Linked DNA regions of Homo sapiens. The protein of the gene in region 3 purifies or fractionates together with the protein of the main gene of each other region. This does not show direct contact. Each region holds a gene or a part of one and is shown on either strand. Other genes may lie near its edges. The genes, in order: IVNS1ABP, PINX1 and NOCT.

What was found.
Region 1: the proteins of NOCT (region 3) and IVNS1ABP purify together in Homo sapiens (affinity purification with mass spectrometry; 2 studies listed by BioGRID and IntAct, with this or other methods). This does not show direct contact.
Region 2: the proteins of NOCT (region 3) and PINX1 purify together in Homo sapiens (affinity purification with mass spectrometry; 2 studies listed by BioGRID and IntAct, with this or other methods). This does not show direct contact.

The regions. Positions count from the first base shown.
Region 1 is NC_000001.11:185,307,129-185,314,292, forward strand, and holds part of IVNS1ABP (influenza virus NS1A-binding protein), read right to left. Parts: exon of another isoform or gene 5,357-7,164; intron 4,195-5,356; 5' UTR 3,967-4,194; intron 2,384-3,966; 5' UTR 2,366-2,383; coding exon 2,255-2,365; intron 2,045-2,254; coding exon 1,875-2,044; intron 1,748-1,874; coding exon 1,672-1,747; intron 535-1,671; coding exon 361-534; intron 12-360; coding exon 1-11. UniProt on the Homo sapiens protein: Involved in many cell functions, including pre-mRNA splicing, the aryl hydrocarbon receptor (AHR) pathway, F-actin organization and protein ubiquitination.
Region 2 is NC_000008.11:10,766,876-10,773,875, forward strand, and holds part of PINX1 (PIN2/TERF1-interacting telomerase inhibitor 1), read right to left. Parts: intron 6,036-7,000; exon of another isoform or gene 3,641-6,035; intron 1,586-3,640; exon of another isoform or gene 1,525-1,585; intron 1-1,524. UniProt on the Homo sapiens protein: Microtubule-binding protein essential for faithful chromosome segregation. Mediates TRF1 and TERT accumulation in nucleolus and enhances TRF1 binding to telomeres. Inhibits telomerase activity. May inhibit cell proliferation and act as tumor suppressor.
Region 3 is NC_000004.12:139,011,426-139,018,834, reverse strand, and holds the start of NOCT (nocturnin), read right to left. Parts: upstream 3,055-7,409; 5' UTR 2,854-3,054; coding exon 2,664-2,853; intron 1-2,663. UniProt on the Homo sapiens protein: Phosphatase which catalyzes the conversion of NADP(+) to NAD(+) and of NADPH to NADH. Shows a small preference for NADPH over NADP(+). Represses translation and promotes degradation of target mRNA molecules.

The DNA.
Region 1 (7,164 bases), on a different chromosome or scaffold from region 3:
ATTACCTCCAACTAGAATTGGGAAAAACAATGACATGGATCAGTGTTGGGCTCCTAGTTCTCAGCTTAATTCCCAATTTCATAATAAAGTTGTCACAGATGCACAATTCATTCCATACATTTACTCTAATTTGTAAGGAACCAGGAATTTGTAAGGAACCAGGAATTTGTAAGGAATTTGATTACTGAATCAAAAACAAAGTAAACAAACTGGTAGGGAGAAACCCATTACGCTGCTAAGAATAACAATATAATTTCAATGTATTATTTCATAATCATTACTCACTTGCTTGAAACACAGACCAAGATTCCACGCCTGGAACTAGATAGTATATATCTGTTTATAGACTTTACTCCTTACCTTTAGCCTTGGAAGCTTAAGAAACTCCTCCTCTTCAGAAATTTGTAACAAATGCTCCTGAATATAAGCATCAACCTTATTCAACAAACGGGAGTCTCCCATACAACTTGCAAAATTTCGGTAAGAGATGCAGCTGGTAACATCCATTCTAGACAGTAAATAATCACCACAAACCTTGGAAAAGAAATATATGAGTGCCAACACTTACATATCTTTTATTCAACAAATATTTAATGTTCAGTGTGGTAAAGACTATGTGAAGATACAAAGAATCAAAAATCACTGTCTTAATACAACAAATGTTAATAGTGGTAATAACACGTATACAAATGATAAACATCTAATTATGCCATACAGATATGTAAGTTTTAGTTTAAGGAGAGGTACAACAAATTGAAATGCTATGTAAGTTCACATAAGTATTTTCAAGTAGAATAATTTGGTAAGGCTTCATGAAACGCAGTATCTGAACTGGGCTCTACAGGAGAGATGATGTTGATGTTGAATGCAGACAGAAGTAGAGAAGATGCTGCAAACAATTTAATTTGGTTGGAGAAAAGATAACTAGGAAATAGTTTTGGAAAGACAGCAACTATATAAGGGAAAATCTAGAAACTAAATGCAGGGATATGTACTGTAAATTAAGGAAGGATTTTTGAACAAAGGAGTGGTATTAGAAGAAGGGCTAGCAAATCAAACTTTTTCTTAAAGGGCCAGATAGTAAAAGCATTTTAGGCTTGTAGGCCATTCTGTTTGTCACAACTGCTCAATTCCGTCACTGTAGCTGGAAAGCAGTGTAGACCATATGTAAATGAACACACATGGCTGTGTTTGAATAAAACTTTATAAAAATAGGCAGCTGGCCAGTAGGCCTTAAGTTTACTGACCCCCATGCATTAGGGGATTAAATGCCTGTTTTCCAAAAGTACTTTTTACTGGCATTAAATTCTAGAAGGAATACTTTTAGAGAGCACAGGAAGTTTAGGAGAACACAGAATTGAGGATATAAGTTATGTGATTAACTCTTAAGAAAAATATTAATTTTAATTCATGCTATCAAAGGCTGACATAGCCACCCTACCAGAGAAGATTGCTGAAAGGGTCAGACTTCAGCCCAAATTATCTGAGAAGAAGTGTGATCTTGCTACATTATTATAGCCAAACAGTTAAAATAACATATTGACTACTCTGAGGGAAAAAAGGGACATGTTCAAGTCCTTGAAACTAACAAGATGTTTTATGACAAATTCAGCATTGCAATCACACAAAATAAGACTCCATAAATGATTTTATTTACTTCTGATACTCTACCTGCTTTACTCGATCCATCTTCAGCTTTTTTGCTGCAGAATAAACATCTTTTACCAATTCCTTATCTGCTTTCAACCTATTTAAAAAAAAAGTTACTTATGATACCAAAGCCTTAAAACACACTTAATTTAAATATATGTAGCAAGACTTGGAATTTTCTGAAGATATTCCCTAATTATATGGTTTACTTCAAATGTACTTACTGAGCAGTGTAGGCATAATTCAACAAGACTTCAACAGCTTCTGGATTGAGATCATCAAATTTAACGTGAGAAATTCCATGAGGATCACTATCACTATTAAAGATTTCAAATAAATAGGGACTGCAGCAAGCTAGCACTGCTCTGTGTGCTAACATTTCATGGCCACAGACCTGAAATTATGAAGAATTATAATTATAAGTATTGTGGATTATGTGCTTCTCTAGCTAATTACTATATCAGATTCCTTTATCTTACATTTCTCAGTATTCTTTTAAAAAATCATTTCATTAAATGCCTATGAAAAAGAAATAAGCAAATCTAAGAACTTATGGCTTTTAGTAATAAAAAATTCTATAAATTTTGAATTAAGTTTTAAATACCTGAAGTCGAACATCACAGAACTGGCCACTTTTCCTCAGGGCATTTAATTTGGCAACAGAAGACTCAATAAAATTTTCATCCTCAAACATCAAATATCCATTGGGAATCATTTTTCCTTATAAATTTGGCTAGATGATGAAAAGAAAGCTGAGTTATTTTACTTGCAACTGATGGTTTTAAAAATATAATGCTAAAGAGTAATACAGTCTCTTTATTCTCAAATTCCATCCTATAAACAACACATAAAAATTTCATCACACAAAAACTTAGCTGAAACAACACCTGTGTTGAATGTCCAAGTCTTTGTTCCCTAATACTTTGGTCATAAGACTTTTAAAGGATTCAAACAGTAGCAGCTATCTCGACAATTTTGGCCAGGTTCCCATGCCCATTAAGCAAATTCATTCTGAAGGGAAGGGAAGGGAAGGAAACGAAACTCCATCCTGCCCAAACCCATATAATAAGTAATCTAAAAGCCTGAAAGGGTGAAATAGCCAGTACATATAGGTTTCCTTGGATTTGGGCTCCTGTCATTCCTTTACCCACAAATGAGAAAAACTGTTACTTATCCTAATCCTAGCCTTTTTCAGTTGTCTTAAAGGGCCCCCAATTTGCTTCTAGTCTTCAAAATTATATATAATCAAGATTTATATGCAGAAAATTGCCTAATGTCTTCCTCCCTTGCCTAGTACACAAACTTAAAAAGTCTGATTAGTCTTGTCACTGTATCTACGAAATTATTTTTATAAATGTTTTGAAACATATACAGTGATTTAAAAAGATGAACTTATATTCTGTTCCTTTCTTTCATATATTCTAAATCACTTATCTCATCAGATTATATAAATATAAATGGGAACTTACAACTTTTTTGCATTTTACCATTACTTATAAACAACTGACTAATGACTACACAAAATGCATAATTAAAAAACAGTGATAGGCTGGGCGCTATGGCTCACACCTGTAATCCCAGCACTTTGGGAGGCCGAGACAGGTGGATCATTTGAGGTCAGGAGTTCAAGACCAGCCTGGCCAACATGGTGAAACCCTATCTCTACTAAAAATACAAAATTTAGCCAGGCATGGTGGCGGGCGCCTGTAATCCCAGCTACTTGTGGGGGCTGAGGCAGGAGAATTGCTTGGGAGGCAAAGGTTGCAGTCAGCTGAGATTGTGCCACTGTACTCCAGCCTGGGCAACAGAGAGACTCCATCTTAAAAAAATAAAATAAAATAAAGAACAGTAATAGGGAGGCCAAGGCAAGAAGATTGCTTGAGCCCAGGAGTTTGAGACCAGTCTGGGAAACATAGTGAAATCCTGTCTCTACAAAAAATGTAAAAATTAGGCAGTCATGGTGGTGGCGCACACCTGTAGTCCCAGTTACTAGGAAGGCTGAGGCAGGAGAAGCACTTGAGCCCAGGAGTTCCAGGCTGCAGTGAGCTATGATCCCACCACTGCACTCCAGCCTGGACAACAGAGATCTTATCTCTTTAAGGAAAAAAAAAAAGGCAGTAAGAAATTTTAATTTGAAGTTACTGATTTATTTAAAGTCAAAATATAGAAAAGAAAAATATGATGTTTTTTATACTCAAATGATTACTGACTTCTCTGCCTTTAAAAAAAGAGTATGAAAGGTTTACTGTACTCGACATCCGTCTTCAGAAAAACAATGTGTCTTAATACTGGACTAGGCAGAGAACATTCACTTACCTACTCTGTTGGTGGCAAATGTATTTCTGGGAACTCTTAAGTAATCCAAGGACAAAGGAGTGTTAAAAGGTGCACTTCGTCAGGGTATGAAGACAGGTGGTTGAAATGAAGGCAGGTGTGTCTTAAGCTCTAATGGTGATTCCAAAACTATCAGGCTTGAAAATGATGTAATCAAGTCCTTAAAAGCTATAGACACGAATTTCTTCTGTGATAATGATGCATCATAATCTATAACAATGATAAATTTAAGTTAGATATTCAGAATAATCAAAGACTGTCATTGATCTAGGTAGAGCAGATCATGTAAAACAAGTCCTGATCTTCAAGAGATTTGACATAAATGGCAAAAATATTCCCATTACATAAAAAAAGAACACAAATGCAATTCCACATAAACATTTTTCATTTAACTTGCAACAACCCAAGTGATTAAAAAAAAAAAAAAAAGTCCTTTCCCAAAGGGCAGGGGCTAATGACCTATGTTTATGAGAGGTATAAAAGCACAAGACTACAAAACAAATGTCAATACTGTTTAATTCTAATATTCTTTATTATTAATTTCCAACTAATATGCAAACATGAGATCTGTTTTGAGCCAGCAAGCAACCTTAGGCATTATTCCCAAGCATATATACTATGTTACTGTTCCTCAAAATGAACTCTGCACTTCCCAGGCTCTGTTAACTTTGTTCAAGTTCTTCTCTCTACCTGGAAGGCCCTTAACCCAACCTCTGCCAGAGGAAATCTTACAGCCATAGAGCCTCTGCCAAATGCTCCCAGTTGGGAAGCAGTTTCTCCTCATCCTCCACATTTAGAACCCTATCTGAGGGGTATTTATGATCTTCCAGCTGGTCTGTTTCATGCTGTATTTATATTCATGCTGTATTTATATATACTTGTTTATCTTCCTTGACTCATGGGCAAACCTTCTGTCTTGTTCATCTTTTGTATCCATCCCATCTCCTCTCTACCAGGACTAGCCTAAAAACTTGAACATAAAGATGAGTAATTTGTTGGAATAAACTAAACAGAAGGGAAAATACTGATGCCTGTGCTTTGTATAATCATTTTTCTCATACACAGTAATAAACTACCAATGGAATCATTCTGGTTCAAACCTAATCTTCAAGGTAATCAGTCCTCCTACCTATTCTCCCTCCCTCATTTTCACATCATCAATTACTAGTGTCAAATTCTGATGGTACTTATTTTGTAATCACCTGAACTGCTATTACACCACTATTAACTCTGGAAACCAGAACTAAGGAATAACTTACCTGAAATACGTGCAAATATATTCATTTTTATGGATATCTTAAGATTATTTGCCTTATACATCAATACAACAATTCTAAATCTAACAATTACGTCAAAGTGAATAATCACTTACCACAGGACTCCACTGCAGGCTGGTCCAGTTCGAATTCAACAAACCTACTATGTTTAGTTCAACATGTGTCCTAACAGGTCTCTCTGTAACAGGTTTCATTTCAAGGAAACCCAATAATGCCAATTCGGGTTGGGATTGTTGTGAATGCTTACCCTTGCATCAAAACTATATCACAGCATTAGGTAATATTGATTTCCTCTGCTCTACCTTTTATCTAGGTTAGTTAATTTGGCTTTTCTCTAAGAAACTAGTTCTAACAAATGTTTTCCAAATATACATAATTCTTTCTACACAGAGAGAACACACTATCCTAAAGAAACCTTCAAACATTTTCAGCCAAGACCTGGCTCAAACTAAGAAAATTTTCATATATATATGATTTATACTGGCATGGTCAATTCACAGGCATAGTTGGCAACTCCTAACTTCAGTTTCATAAGCTGCTCTTAAAATAAGAGGAAGGAGTCCCCATGCAAATTGTTATATTAAAATGCATCCTCTGAAAAGCCAAAAACATTATAATATGAAGGTACTATTTTAAACTTTGACCAGTTTTACTCACTTTTTACTTGTAAACTTGATCTAACAAAAAATAAAAATGGTATCCACTTACTATATTTGACAAATTGAATGATCTACCTAAAATTTATTTTGGAAAAAAATGGTTAAAATTACTGCAGCCCTTGGAGAAAACACTGGAGAATTTTTGGGGCAATTTGCATCAGACAAATTTGTACAATATTATTATGAGTTTTGCAGTAAAATGAATCCTGTATTTAGTGCTTGATTTTTATTTAGTTTTTACTCTAATTCCATGACAGTACCTGATTTTTAGTACATCAAGGTCATAATATGAACCTCATCTCTTTAATATCTACTGATCAGAGTACAAAGCTACTTGATTTTAAAAGCCAGCCCAAATCTAGATGACATTTAAGTTAATGCAAACTTACTTTATTCAATTATTGTCCTCATACACTATATACCTACTTCCCGCCCACCTCAAGTTTGGAGGGGATCAGATCAATTCCTGTCTGTAAAACCATGTTTTTGAAAGTTCCTATTTACTTTCATTAAAGTGAGCTAGGGCAAATCAAGAGTTTTAAACTACTCCCCAAATTGACGGGAGATCTTATTTGGTCTATAAAACTCAAGCACGATAACTAGTGGAATTAAAAAATGGGGAAAATTGTTTTCTTTGAAAATCCAAACCAAAAGTCCAGACATCCCAGAGTCATATAAGAGTATGAAACGTAGAATTGTTTGGTGTTTAAAATACACTTTCAACTAAATCTACACCTAGGTCACTTTTCTTACACATTTAAAATTAAAACTAGGATCAAATACAATATATTCAGATAAATTCAGCATACTTCTATGGCCACTGCAAGGGATACCGAAGACTCATAAATGAGTAATTAAACTGCTTTAATAACACCCAGAAGTTCACAGCCCGGAAAGATTAGCTTAAGTGAAATACAATTCAACAGGTCTTATCAAAGAGTTGTTAAAAAGGTAGGCACAATATGGCCTCTGCTAAAATTTTTCTCTGGCCTTCAGTAAGACCAAGATAAAACAAAAGACAATCGTTTGAGGGCAGTCAGCTCCCACCAAGTAGCCATCAGCTGCATTTTTAAAGGAAAGACTTTATAATACAAAGTAAATCAACACATCTTTTTAAAACCAGAAGTTACAGCTTTCCAAAGTAACCTCTAAAACCACCATCACCATCCATGTATATGAAAACTCGCTGAACTCATTCATTCTATCCATGCTCATAGTTTTGTAATTCTTTCACTACAACACAA
Region 2 (7,000 bases), on a different chromosome or scaffold from region 3:
CCATTTGGGCTGAGGCTGGCAGTAAGGTGAGGAGGAGTGCCTGTGAGGCAGGAAGTGCTTTCGGGTTGAAGACTATAAGGAATATGCTCGGAGTCAAATCAATGTCTGCAGCAACTCTGCCCACAGAGACTCTGGAAATAAGTCATTAAGCAATCATGCTAAACTTAGGTTTTCATAGTCACCCAACTTCTTCCTTCATACTCATTTATCTCACAAGAAGAGGCTGGGTGTTCTACGCTTTCATGATGGGAGGGTGGGAAACGGCTCCTGAATAAAGAAATCTCCAAATCAGGATTCTACTAATGATCCTAAACTTGGCTGGCAAGGTTCTGCTTGTGCAGGTAACTGAATTACAAACCACCTATAAACAGACCCTGTATTGTCTCGACACAGTGGTCCTCAAAAGCCACCTCAGTGGAATCCAAGATAATGTCCCAGTTGCAGTTCCAGCAGAATCGATATTAATATGTATCAATGGACAATTGGGCCTTCAGTGGCAAGTGCCTCAGACAGCTTTCACCAAGGGGTACATTAAAAAAAAAAATCATGTGGTCAATTCTGGAATTTCAAAATAGGCAGAACATGAAGAATAAATCAACTGAGTTTTGGGAAGCAGTTTTAATTTTATCTATTACTATTCAATTTGTGCTGGAATTCCATAGGGTGATTTTGAGAAAAATAAAAAAAATCTGCCTCAGGAGATTTGTCTTTTTGTTCTTCAAATGTTGAAAAAGAGCTGAAATGCTGCACAGCAGAGTGAAGGATCTTCTCAAGGCTCTCCCGGCACGAGCCAATCCCAGGCTCATGAACAAGAAAGATCCTGCCTCCCAAAGACGGGCACCCTCACAGCCACAGAGACAGGCTCGGTGACCAGGCACCCTCACAGCCACACAGAGACAGGCTCGGTGACCAGGCACCCTCACAGCCACACAGAGACAGGCTCGGTGACCAGGCACCCTCACAGCCACACAGAGACAGGCTCGGTGACCAGGCACCCTCAGCCACACAGAGACAGGCTCGGTGACCAGGCACCCTCACAGCCACACAGAGACAGGCTCGGTGACCAGGCACCCTCACAGCCACACAGAGACAGGCTCGGTGACCAGGCACCCTCACAGCCACACAGAGACAGGCTCGGTGACCAGGCACCCTCACAGCCACACAGAGACAGGCTCGGTGACCAGGCACCCTCACAGCCACAAAGAGACAGGCTCGGTGACCAGACACCCTCACAGCCACACAGAGACAGGCTCGGTGACCAGGCACCCTCACAGCCACACAGAGACAGACTCGGTGACGACGGCTGGCTCGTTTATGCAACAGAAGTCTCACTGACAGTTTCGCAGCACTACAGGAGCCTGCAGTCTGTGGGCCACTCTTTTGGAATGTATTTTTGAGGCTGGAACTCAGATCTGAGTCGAATCCTATGACTCCTTACCTTGCTCATCTATTTATTACCTTGTGAATTCCTGATTTTAATCACCGGAACTAATTGCTGGTATTAATCACATTTTTTATTATCAGGAAATACAAGACCATTTTTGAGTCACTTGTTGAATTCAGCGGGTCTTCGTAACTCCAGAAAGTAAGTATGCTCATATGCTCATCATCAACTTCTGGGATGTAAGTTTAATAGGCACGGGTCACTGCACAGGCTTGGCAGGGCATGGAGACAGGCTAGAGAGGGGCCAGCACCCAAGTCCTACTTCTTCCCAGCAAAGTGCTGGCCACACAATGACTGGCTAGAGAGAGCTGCTTAATGCGGGGGTAGCCACCCTCCCACATCACAGAAACGTGCCTATTTTACAAGACCATGGACTCAAAGGAAAAATACATTGAAAATCTGACTCCTGCAGGAGCAATGGCCAGGACTCATCTTTTATACACCAAAGTCGGAGACTCAGTTTCACTGCAGAGATTCTAATCCTGCTTCTGCATTCTTGACCATGGCATCACATAAAAATAGATACATCTTTTCAAGAAAACTAATGCTTTTACATCTGGTCTCTATCAAAGTAAACAAGTATTGAGAAAACAAGTTACTTTTAAGCATTTTGAAATGACAATAACTTGCATTTTCCCACATTTCCATTAAACACACAATACACCTCAAAAAATAAAATAAAAAAAAATTTAAATGCGACATTCACTGCTTCATAAACGTTGAGAATGTCTGTTTGCTAACTGTGTGCCAAAACCTAATGAAACAAATTTAAGAGTAACTTGAAAACTTCTGGTTCCATATAAAATACTACCAAGAAATATGGTTAATCATCTTGCCAAATGTGATTTAAGCTCAGGGATTCGGGAAATGTCTCTCTCTCTTTTTCAAATTCCAATGCTTGCTGTTCAGCTAAAGGAGGTTTTTGCCACTAATGGCAAAAACCGTGATTACTTTTGCACCAACCTAATAAAATAAGCAGGACTGGCCTAGTCTGTTCACAGCAAGCCTCACAGTCCTCTCCCTTCCTTCAGCGCTAATGAGTGCATCACATGTGTCAAAAACATTTGATGACTGACTTTCCCAAATGGTAAGTGGGCCTTAATTTCTACCCAATCAATAAGTACTTGTGGCTTTGAACTGAGATGACTCTGGAGCACCTGTTCCCCAGTTCACAGAGCCCTGAGAGTTTAAAGCCAGGCCCATGGGATCACCCTGCTCAATCATTTGAGGAAGCTTCACCCAAAGTGATCAGGCCTGGGTGTCCTGAGGAAGGCAGCTATCACCACCGTGCCAGGCACTTGACATCAAGTGGCATCTCAGCCAACTCTTGCTGCAACCTGAGGAGAGGCGTCCTCTCCACATCACACAGGCAGAGAGTGAGACTCCTAGCACTTAATCCGCAGAAGGTCTCACAGCTGGAACACAGCAGGAGAGAGACAGCCCTAAGGCTGCCAGGTGCAAAGCCCTTGCTCCCTGTACCACAGGACCCCGACTCCTAGCTCCCACCTCATGGACTGCCTTGTCACCTTTCCTCTCTCTTCAGAAGCCACCCCAAAACTAAAGTATGTATCAATTGACCACATAATCCAGAGACTAAGGTCTACACTCACCTAAGTTGACTGATGCAGAAAAAATATCCACAGAAATAGTACTTTCAAAAGAGAAAAAAACTACATCATTTTGGTTTGCAATTCATATAAATAAAAAACAGCCTGAAGCCAGGCTTAAAAGAGTTTTATAATTTATCAAACTAGCATGTACATTCACTTGAAAAAGTTTGACTGTTTTAAAGCACAGAGTAAAACCCAAGTCCAAACCTTCCACCCAGGCAAGAAGCCCTCTTGGGCAGATGCTGGACAGCTTCCACCTGGACACTGCCAATATGGAAAGGTGGCTGCTGTGGTTCTCTGACTCAGTTTCCTCATCAGCAACAGGTCAATTCAGGTGGTTCATGGGCGTACACTGTGTGTCACGATTAGAGCTGGAGAATCTTAACGCCATCTCTGGCAATTCCGAATTATCACTGAGGAGAAAACAAAGAGTGGGCACAAAGGCAAGCTGACCCTGCAGAGAGTCCCTGCGGGTATCAATTACAATACACCACAGTCCTCTCCGGTCCCTGAAAGATGCCTGAAGCTACATGTATCAACTCTTCTCGGATGTCTACAGAATTAAAGTCTGTTCTGCTTCTTTTAGGATCCTCCATCTGGAGACTCTGCAGCTACATGAGTGAGTATCTGCGCAAGATCCTCTGGGCTCATGGAGGACTTTGCTCTTGTGTCATTCAAACATGTATACTGAGATGGATTATTAGTACAATGCCCAAATAGAGAGGATTCTCCATTATTCTCAAAAGAATCTTTTGGGGCAAGGAAATGAAGCAGTTTGCACAGAGACCTTAGTGAAGTGCCAGAAGCAGATGCACCTTACTACAGAATCCCCCTACTTATGATCAACATGCCAGTCCAGGAAATGGGCTTCAAAGGCAAGTCTTTCAGCTCGCCAGCCTTGCTCATACATCACTACTGATCTTAAGTGACAGGATGATGGAAGCTTTCTTATTTCCACATTAAGACACGGAGGTCATGCTGCAACAGTAATCCTTCAATGAACTTTGTTAACAAAGTAGACTCCCAGAGATCAAGGGTAATGTATTTAGCAACTGGGGTTGTGAGCCCTGATGGCTATTGCCTGTGATGAACAAATGCTCACTGCCACCACAGCCTGTCTGTCATCAGCCTGTGCTGGGTTAGTCTGTGAAAAGTTAAGAAAGCTTGGCAAGTGAGTGGTTTGACAGAACATTCTGTACCTTTTCCAAACTTTTCAGTGGGGCAGTTCTGACAAACACAAATTATGTCTTCATGTATCCCTTCAGGTATGAAGTGACTGTGTGTGACTCCTCAAAACAAAGGGATTGTGGAGACCCCACCGTCAGCTGTGTGTGTACTTTAAACTCCTCCAACAGAAGGGGCAGGATGAACTGACCCAGTCACTCCCTATGCTGGCCTACGATGTTCTTCCACATCCCCTGTACACAGTCCCGTGCATCACTTTCTTGAAGATCAAGTGTGTGACTGCTTCCTTCCACAAGTCCAATCCCAAGTGAACATCCTTTCTTGTTTATTCCCCATAATAGCAACTTGTTGCTTCTATTTTCTGTATTTGTTTAATTTGCTTTGCTAGCATCTTCCCAAGGAAACAAGTTTCTTGAGGACAGGGGCCATTTATGTTGCATTTGTATTCATACAATCCACAACCTCCCTAATGAGGAACAAGGTACAGTAAGTGCTCAACAAAGGCACAAAGACACCAAACCCAGCTGGACCAAGGCTGTGAAGAGCTCCCACCACCACCCACTGGCCCCAAATGCTTTGTGTTTGTCAGTACGAACTTGTCTGCACATCAGGCAGGTCTAATGTCCAGAAGGGGTGTGGGAGGGTAAGAAGAGAATCAGCATTTTGAGTGCAGATTCCTCCCATCCACATGAAACCACCCCCTTCTCATCAGATAGCACCTTCCCTTGCCTCGTGATGCAAACTGCTTCTCTAACTACTGCAGAGTACATCTGAGTGTCGTCTGCTGTCAGCCAGTTCCTTCCTGGCCCTTAGCAATAAATAGAAACTCAGTCCAGTGATCCATCCATTTCTCCTTCTGCTCTGTCATTCCACATGTTACCACAGTTGCCTTGGAGGGGACAAGTCAATTGGAAAAAAGCAAGGTACTGTGTGGTATGGGAACTGCCACGTTCTTTTTGTGGGATTAGTTGAACACAAGCAATGCCAGTAGAGACTGAACTGTTCTTGCTAAAGAAGAGAACTGTTCTTGGTAAAGAGAAGAGAGTTCTCGTGCATACCACATACAAAGGTAAGCAGCTCATTTGGAGAACAGCAGTGGGATGGAAGTTCCACCAGCAGCCTCTGGTAGCAAGCTGTGAAGGCACAGCCTACATTATATCTTAGCTGAAAACAACCTGGGCAAGCTGATTCTAGGGAGTCATTGAAATGGGTTTGCCACTGAAGGCTGAGCTAGGCAGTGATTCACGGCCGTTCGTTGGAAAGCCTGCCCTGAGCCACTATGGCGGGCGGCCCTGCTCTTCTCTCTATGGAACCTCTGTGGTTTCATGCTTTTCCTTCGTGGTTTCCATGTAACTGAAAACACCCAGTGTTTTATTGATGAACAGCTATTTTTACACTCACAAAAAGCTTTTCAAGTGTGAAATCTTGTACATTTTTCAAGACATTCATCGCTCACATCTGGAATTAGGCTAAACGCACCAAGTCTCGGCAATGAGCAGCCTCGGGGAATTTGCCTGGGAGACACAATCAGTTTTAGCATTAGCAAGTATCACAAGAGTCAAAAACAAATATAAAACCCCATTGACTGAAGAGAGTTGTGATTTGAAGTGGTATTAAAAAGCAAAGATACAATAACAGAATGAGAATTATGCAGCAACTCAATTGGAAAACACAGAAATTGTGTGTGCGTGCACATGTGAAACAGGTGTAAGAACCTGTGGCATGTATTAGAAGCCCACTCTGCAGGGGTTCCAGAGGGTTCTCTCTAGAACAGAGACTGGTGAACTATGGCCGTGGGCCTAGTTTTTAATGATTTTTTTTTTTTTTTACCATTTCTAAATGGTTAGGAGGAAACAAAAAACTATTTTATGACATGTAAAAATTACATGAATTTCAAATACCAGTGTCCTTAAAGTTTTGAATTTCCTCAGTAAAAATCTTGTAAAAATTTGTTTTCTTTCTCATTATACAAGTACATACAATAGGTGCTAAGTAAATATTTACTGAATAAATGTATTATAAAATCGGCTCTGTGACTGTGAATACAATACGGCTGACTTTTGGAAGTGGCAGGTGCTTTTCCAGTGCACACACACAATATACCTTTATATACACACATGTACATATATACACGTATGGAACTGGAGGACGCTGGGCTTTGACAAAGTCCTCAAGCTCTGTCTCCTGCCAACGACAGAATGCCTACCTTTCTGAACTGTGTCAGCAAGCAGCAGAGAGGCTGCTAACTGCTGCCTGCTTTTGAGTAGCAAAAGCCAGTAAAGAAAAAATTTGTTTAAAAAGTGATGTGACATCAAAGAGCACTCTCAGCAACCCAGTAAGTATGCAGAGATACCTTTCTAATATCAGGCATCAGAACTCCGCTTGGAAGTTACAAACTCAGACACACCGGACATTGGAGAAGATAATACGAACTAGAAGGGACAGAATAGCTTGGCTGGACTTTAGTAGAGAAATACACAGAATGCCAAATTCCTCATATGAAGGCCAATGGTAACAGAGCTGTTAATTTTATGTCTTTTTATTTTTATTTTTTCCCATATGCCTAACCAGCTATTCCGATTGCCACTTATTAGGAAAAGCCGACATAAACATGTTTTAAAAGGATGGTTCTCTATGGCAACAGCTTCTCAAGTAATCAACATCAGGATCACTGACAAGAGTCATCCAGCCTCTGTGGAAAAAGAGGAAAGAGAAAGAGGAGCAGGCTTCCTGCCTCCCTGAAAGGCCCTCAGGCTCGGAA
Region 3 (7,409 bases):
CCCAAAAGGGACTTCCTGCTTTCCTGCACCCTTGTGCCATTTCCAAGTCAAGAGAATAAAAGGTGTTTCATTTCATTAAACAGCCATTTCATTGTGCAAATCTCATCTCTTACTGGGCAGTAAACTCCTTAGGGACTGACTAAAGCTCATGTTTTTAACTCCCATAATAAAGCACCTACATTGTGTGAGACATTCTGTAAAGATCTGGAATGAGTGAACAAGCAATGAATGAATCAATGCAGGCATGTTTCTTCCAACAAGCTGCTGAAGCTAAAAATGCATGAACAGGAAAATTGTCTAGACTTTATAGTAACTGCCTACAAAAGTTTAAGTACCATAAAGTCCTTCAATTTCCTTATCTGTAAAACTAGGGGGTTTCAGGGGATTTCTTAAAAGAAGTTCATTAAACACTTTCTTGGGTCAAAAGCCCAACATTCCAATCTGACCTGATATTATTACTCAGATAACAGTAATTACTCAGATAACACAGCCATCTATGTTTTACACAAGCTAACAGTATTCCCATGAGGAGGTACCTACTAACCCTGCCTCTGAGACTTTGAGGGAATTTAAGATATAAGCTGGTACAGAAGACATCACCTGGTTTTCTTTTACTTTTCCTACCTCAAACCTCTAACAATGTTGTTCTTAAAATTTCCAGCAAGAAAAAAGTTATCAGGCAATATACTCATTCTGGCAGTTATTTCACAATGTACCACATTCCTACGAAATTGGGGGTGGGGGTGGGGAATCTAACTGTCAAGTTCACTCTAAGGAACAATATAGTTCAGAATCTCCAGCAACCAATTCAACATCCTAATTTTAAAATGACTAAGTTGGGCATGGTGGCTTCCACCTGCAAATCTCAACTGCTCCAGAGTCTGAGGATAACTCGAGGCCAGGAGTTTGATACTAGATTGGGAAATACCTAAATATCTGCCAACAATGCGAATAGTTTAAAGTCTTGGCTTCAATCACATTCCAGATGACCATTTTTAAAATATATACATTTTTTAAAATTTTTATTAATTTTGTTTTGAGACGGAGTTTTACTCTTGTCACCCAGGCTGGAGTGCAATGGTGCGATCTCGGCTCACTGCAACACTCCGCCTCCCAGGTTCAAGTGATTCTCCTGCCTCAGCCTCCAGAGTAGCTGGGATTACAGGCGAGTGCCACCACGCCCAAGCCCATTGGCCAGGATGGTCACGAACTCCTGACCTCGGGTGATCTACCCGCCTCCGCCTCCCACAGTGCTGGATTACAGGCGTGAGCCACCGCGCCCGGCCTATTTTTTTAAATTTTATAGGCCGGGGGGGCGGTGGCTCACGCCTGTAATCCCAGCACTTTGGGAGGCCAAAGCGGGAGGTTCACCTGAGCTAGGGAGTTCGAGGCCAGCCTGACCAACATGGAGAAACCCCATCTCTACTAAAAATACAAAAATCAGCCTGGCGCGGTGGCGCATGCCTGTAATCCCAGCTTCTCGGGAGGTTGAGGCAGGAGAATCGCTTGAACCCGGGAGGCAGAGGTTGCGGTGAGCCGAGATCGCGCCATTGCACTCCAGCCTGGGAAATAAGAGCAAAACTCCGTCTCAAAAAAAAAAAAAAAAAAAGTTATGTATTGCCTAGTTTTGAAAGAAAAAATTTATCAATTTTTAAAGTATAATTAATTTGTATGTAATTTGTGGCCATGGTAATGTGTGCCCAGGCAGAAACAGAGGTAGCAAAAAAGGAAAACTCAGGGTAGTTATTATGATGTATGAAAACAGCTCTTGGTGAAACTAAGGCCTCACTTTTACAAGATCTTAGATACACAGGACAAAAAATGATGTTAACTATAAAGAGTGGAAGCCTCCAAAAAAAAAAAATCCAAAGAAACGTAAAATGGCCGAGCGCGGTGGCTCACGCCTGTGATCCCAGCACTCTGGGAGGCTGAGGCGGGTGGATCACGAGGTCAGGAGTTCAAGACCAGCCTGGCCAAAATGGTGAAACCCCCGTCTCTACTAAATATACAAAAGTTAGCTAGGCGTGGTGACTGGCGCCTGTAATCCCAGCTACTCGGGAGGCTGAGGCAGGAGAATCGCTTGAACCCGGGAGCGGGAGGTTGCGGTAAGCCGATATCGTGCCACTGGACTCCAGCCTGGGTGACACAGTGAGACTCCATCTCAAAAAAAAAAAAAAAAAAAAAAAAAAAAAACAACGTAAAACGAATCAATGTGTTATTATCACGACTTAAAAAAAAAACTTAATATCTAGACCATGAAAGCTATATAAGCAAATAAGCATCATTTAGATTTTTTTTTCCATAAAAATTTCCGTTAAGTCGTGCAATAAAAAATGTAACCAACATAGTAACTCGCGGCCTCGGAAGGGGGAAATTTAACGGTCAAGAACAAGAAATTCTGAAAGCATGGCCTCTAAGGGTCAAGCGGGAACCTGAATACAGTCTCCCAGTTCTTACTAGCTTTGATGCAAGCCCCAGGCAAGTCGGGGAACAGGGAAAGAGGAAAAAGGGAACGCAGAAGGTTGCTCCGGTAAAGGACCCACTTTCAGGCCAGACTCCACGACCGGCAGCCCCGGGCTTCTCATTCATTCCGCGCGGTCTCCAGGTGGCGGCCGCGCGTTGGCGGCCGTGGCGTTCTCCGCCCGGAACTGGGGTGCACTCACCTGTTCGGGAACACGACCTCGCGGCGCCCGAGGCCGCCGAGGCCGCCGCCAGCAGCCGGGGGGATGCGGGCCTGGGAACAGCAGCCGGCGGGGACAACGGGCGGCGCAGCCCTGGGGCGGGCAGGCGGCGCAGGCCGGGCGCGTCCCTCTGCAGCAGGGCCGAGCAGAGCCGCCGCGGACTATGAAACATGCCGGGCGCCGCCGCCACCACGGCCCCTCGCGCGCCCGAGGAGCGGAGCCCGGCTGGGGCCGAGGGCACCGAGTCGAGCCGACTGTCCGGGCAGTGTGGGCGGATGCTCCCAGGCTCCTTCTCGCGCGGCGCAGGTTCTGGGGAAATCCCGGGCAGCAGAGCCGGAGAGGGAGGTGCAACACCGCTGCGTCGGCACCGTCTGCTGTGAGACCTGGCGAGACCTGCAGGGCGCCCGGCGAGCGCTGCGCGCTGACAAAGCGGGCGCTACCAAGCGGGAGCTGGAGGGGAATCCGCGGGACCCGGCCACTGCGCGGCCACGCCAGGCTCCCTCGACCCGGCGTAATCCTGTTTTAAAAGGAAGCGGGGCTTAGGCTGATTTATAGATAGAATCCGCAGGCGGTCTAAAATAAGAGGTATCCGTTGGAGCTGTTCTGAAGAAAAAAGCGTCCCCTTCCGCTGGCCAGCATGGAAGCGCCCACAGGCTGGGAATCCCGAGACAGTTCCAGGGCTGTGGCCCAGGGGACACGTGTCTGTCAGAGTGGCAGACGGCCTACGTGTGTGCCTGCGCGGGTCTGTGTGGATACAGCAAAAGGCGTCCGCCTCCGACCCCCTCGGCAGTGTGTGATGCGTTAAACGATATTAAGCACAATAAAGCACCGCCTGTGGGCGAGGCGACGATGATTAAAACAGCGTTCTTTTCCTCAAAAGTGTTATACTTAGGCAAAGGGAGCAGAAGGTGGCAAGGGAAGTCAGACCAGAAAGCTCTACAAGGTAGAATGAGATTATTGCCACAAGATGCCAAAGATTGGCTATAGAGATGACAACAGGCCCGGGCTCTCTAGAAGGTTCATTAGAAGGATTGGCATTTGAGTTGGCCTATGACGTGGAGGTCTAGAATTTACCCACGTGAAACTTTGGAGGGGGTGGTGGTGAGTTATAAATGAAAAAAGTAAATAAGGGTGTATTTGGGGAAACAACTCTTAGTCATGTAAGATGGAAGCTAAGGAGTAAGAGGACAGATGCGTGGATAGGTTGTAGTGTGGAAGGAAGGGGATTATAGTAGGCTTAATTCGGTGGATAGCTGCGAGCCGTTGACGTTTTGTAAGCTGAGCAAAGACATGGTCAGGGCTGTGCTTTAATTGGAAATCACATGTCTCTGGTTCATGAAAAGGCAGAAAGGAAATCAGCTGAGATAACAGATACTGTAGACCCGCACCAGGTTACTGTTACTGGAAAAGAAAGGATGGAAGAAACATCTCAGACAGGCTGGGCAGGAAATGATGACTAATCAGGAATAGAAATGGGATGAGGGGGAGGGAAAACCCAAGACTGGATTTTTCTCTGAATGATTCATGAGTTAGAAATGTATTCTATTGGTTTTCCCATGATTTTGCTGATTCCCCTGTGTTGTGGAATTGCAAGCTTTTCATCACAAGAATATTCTAAATATTTTTCAGACCTAGGTTACATATCTAACACCTGTGGATAGAGGGTGTGGACAGATCAGCTGGCACAAGTTGATTACAACTTCTGGCAGACAAGCTCCTTGGAAGTCATTAAAGCCTCAGTTTCAGTTTCCTTATCTATAAAACATAGAATCATACCTTAGTCATTAGGTGAAATAAAAAATGATAATAAGCTACTCTGGGCACACTGTCTATCGAGTAGTCCTGCTCCACAAGGAGCAGTACTTGTAAAAAGAATTTTTTTAAAAAGGTGATAATAAAATTAGCCTATGAAAAGTGTTTTGCAAATATAGCAAAATGTTGATTTTGAATCTAGGTAGTGGGTATATATGGGTATAGGGACCATGGGAAAAATGTTCCCTTTGCCCTCTGAAGTTTGCTGAAAAATCAACTCACAAAAGGCAGATTAATGGGAGAAAAGGCATATGCATTTATTAACATGTACATGGGGAGAATCACAGAGTGATTACACACCCCCAACGGGGTTCAGAAGCTTGTCTACCATCCTGGCCAACAGACTTGGGGAGAGGGGAGCAGAGGCATTCTGTTGAGGAGATGACTAGGGAAAGTGAATGGATCAGGGCACAGGGATGAACTTGCACATTATCTTGTGAAAGGGTCTGTTCAGGTGGTTACATTTTTGGTCTTACAAGGAGGGGAAGAAAAAACAATTGTTCCTTTTGGTGGGTTCGGATTGTAGCCAGATAAAGGAACTTCAACTTCATCCTGTGCTTTGGGAGAGATGGTGCTGGGCAGTGAGGTCAGAGAGACCTTGAGGCTTCCATTCAGCCGGTCAAAGCCCCATATTTTGGGCTATCAGTTTCTGAGTCCCGACACAAGTGTTCACTTACAATTATTTTTCCCCCATATATTTGGAGATTTTCATAATAAAATGTTGGGGAAAAGTGCTTTGAAAAATGAAAAAATAACTGTTCAAATATAAACTGTCACTATTTAAAGAGATTCAAAGAGCATGCTATCCTGAAAGTGCATCATATTATTTATTTTTTTTTTATTTATTTATTTGAGATGGAGTCTGTCGCTCTGTTGCCCAGGCTGGAGTACAGTGGCGTCATCTTGGCTCCCTGCAACCTCCGCCTCCCGGGTTCCAGCCATTCTCCTGCCTCAGCCTCTGGAGTAGCTCTGACTACAGGCGCACACCACCACGCCTGGCTAATTTTTGTATTTTTTAGTAGAGACAAGGTTTCATCATATTGTCCAGGCTGGTCTCAAACTCCTGACCTCAGGTGATCCCCTCGCCTCAGTCTCCCAAAGTGCTGGGATTACAGGCATGAGCCACCACGCTCGGCCTGAATCATATTTTTTATAATATATTAAACACTAAGCAATCAGAAAGATAGAAATTAAAACTTATTCCCTTGAAAATTTATTCAGTAAACATTTGTTGAATACACATTATGTGCCAGGCTCTATATTAGAGCATACAAAAATAAATTGAACAAAATCTATTGACAGTTTAGGGGGTAAGACATTGTATAAACAAAAATACTTGTAATTATCTGCTAATAAGTACAGAATCACTTATGGACAAAGTATTGTGGGACCAGAGAAGAGGAAATGTTACTGGAAAGGGGTCCCAATCCAGACCCCAAAAGAGGGTTCTTGAATATTACACAAGAAAGAATTCAGGACGAGCTCATAAAGTGAAACCAAATTTATTAGAGAAGTAAAGAAATAAAAGAATGGTTACTCCATAGGCAGAGCAGCACTGAGGGCTGCTTATGGCTTTTTCTTTTTCTTTTTTTTTTTTTTAATTGAGATGAAGTCTCGCTCTGTCACCCAGGCTGGAGTGCAACGGCACGATCTCGGCTCACTGCAACCTCCACCTCCCAGGTTCAAGTGATTCTCCTGCTGAGCCCACAGAGTAGCTGGGATTACAGATGCGTGCCACCTCACCCAGGTAATTTTTTTATTTCTATTTTTAGTAGAGATGGGGTTTCGCCATGTAGGCCAGGCTGGTCTCAAACTCATGATCTCAAGTGATCCACCTGCCTCCCAAAGTGCTGGGATTACAGGCGTGAGCCACTGCGCCCGGCCTTGTTGGCTATTTTTATGGCTATTTCTTGATTACATGCTAACTAGGGAGAGGGTTATTCGTGAATTTTCCAGGAAAGGGGCAAGGATTTCCCAGGACTGAGGATTTCTCTGCCTTTTAGACTATATAGGGTAACTTCTGGATGTTGCTGTGCCATTTATAAACTGTCACGGCACTGGTGGGAGTGTCTTTTATCATGTTAATGCATTATAATTAGCGTACAATAAACAGTGAGAACAACTAGAGGTCACCTTCATCACCATCTTGGTTGTTGTGGGTTTTGGCTGGTTTCTTTTTTTTTTTGAGATGGAGTCTCGCTCTGTCACCCAGGCTGGAGTGCAATGGCACGGTCTCGGCTCACTGTAACCTCCGCCTCCCGGGTTCCAGCAATTCTCCTGCCTCAGCCTCCCGAGTAGTTAGGCCTACAGGCGCATAGTAGTCCTACGCGCCTGGCTAAATTTGTATTTTTTTTTAGTAGAGACTGGGTTTCTCCATGTTGGCCAGGCTGGTCTTGAACTCCTGGCCTCCCGAGTAGTTAGGACTACAGGCGCGTAGTAGTCCAACACACCTGGCTAAATTTGTATTTTTTTTTAGTAGAGACTGGGTTTCTCCATGTTGGCCAGGCTGGTCTTGAACTCCTGGCCTCGTGATCCGTCTGCTGAGCCAATGCGCCCGGCCGGCTGGTTTCTTTTTCACATCCTGTTTCATCCGCTGAGTCTTTATGATCTATATCTTGTGCTGACCTCCTATCTCATCCTGTGACTAGGAATCCCTAACCTCCTGGCAATGCAGCCCAGTAGGTCTCAGCCTCTATTCAACATAGAGTTGCTCTGGCTCCAACACCTCTGACAGAAATAACTAATTGCCTAGAGAAGTCAGGAGAGGCGTTTTGAACAAAGTGACTACCAAGTGGAAAGGTATCACAGAGGATATCCACAGAGAAGAGAACACTAAGGCGAGGAAAGAAGGCGTGTTCCAGGAACAGCAAGTGCTGCAATCTGATAAGGGTTGAGTGCGGGATGTCCATAGGGAGT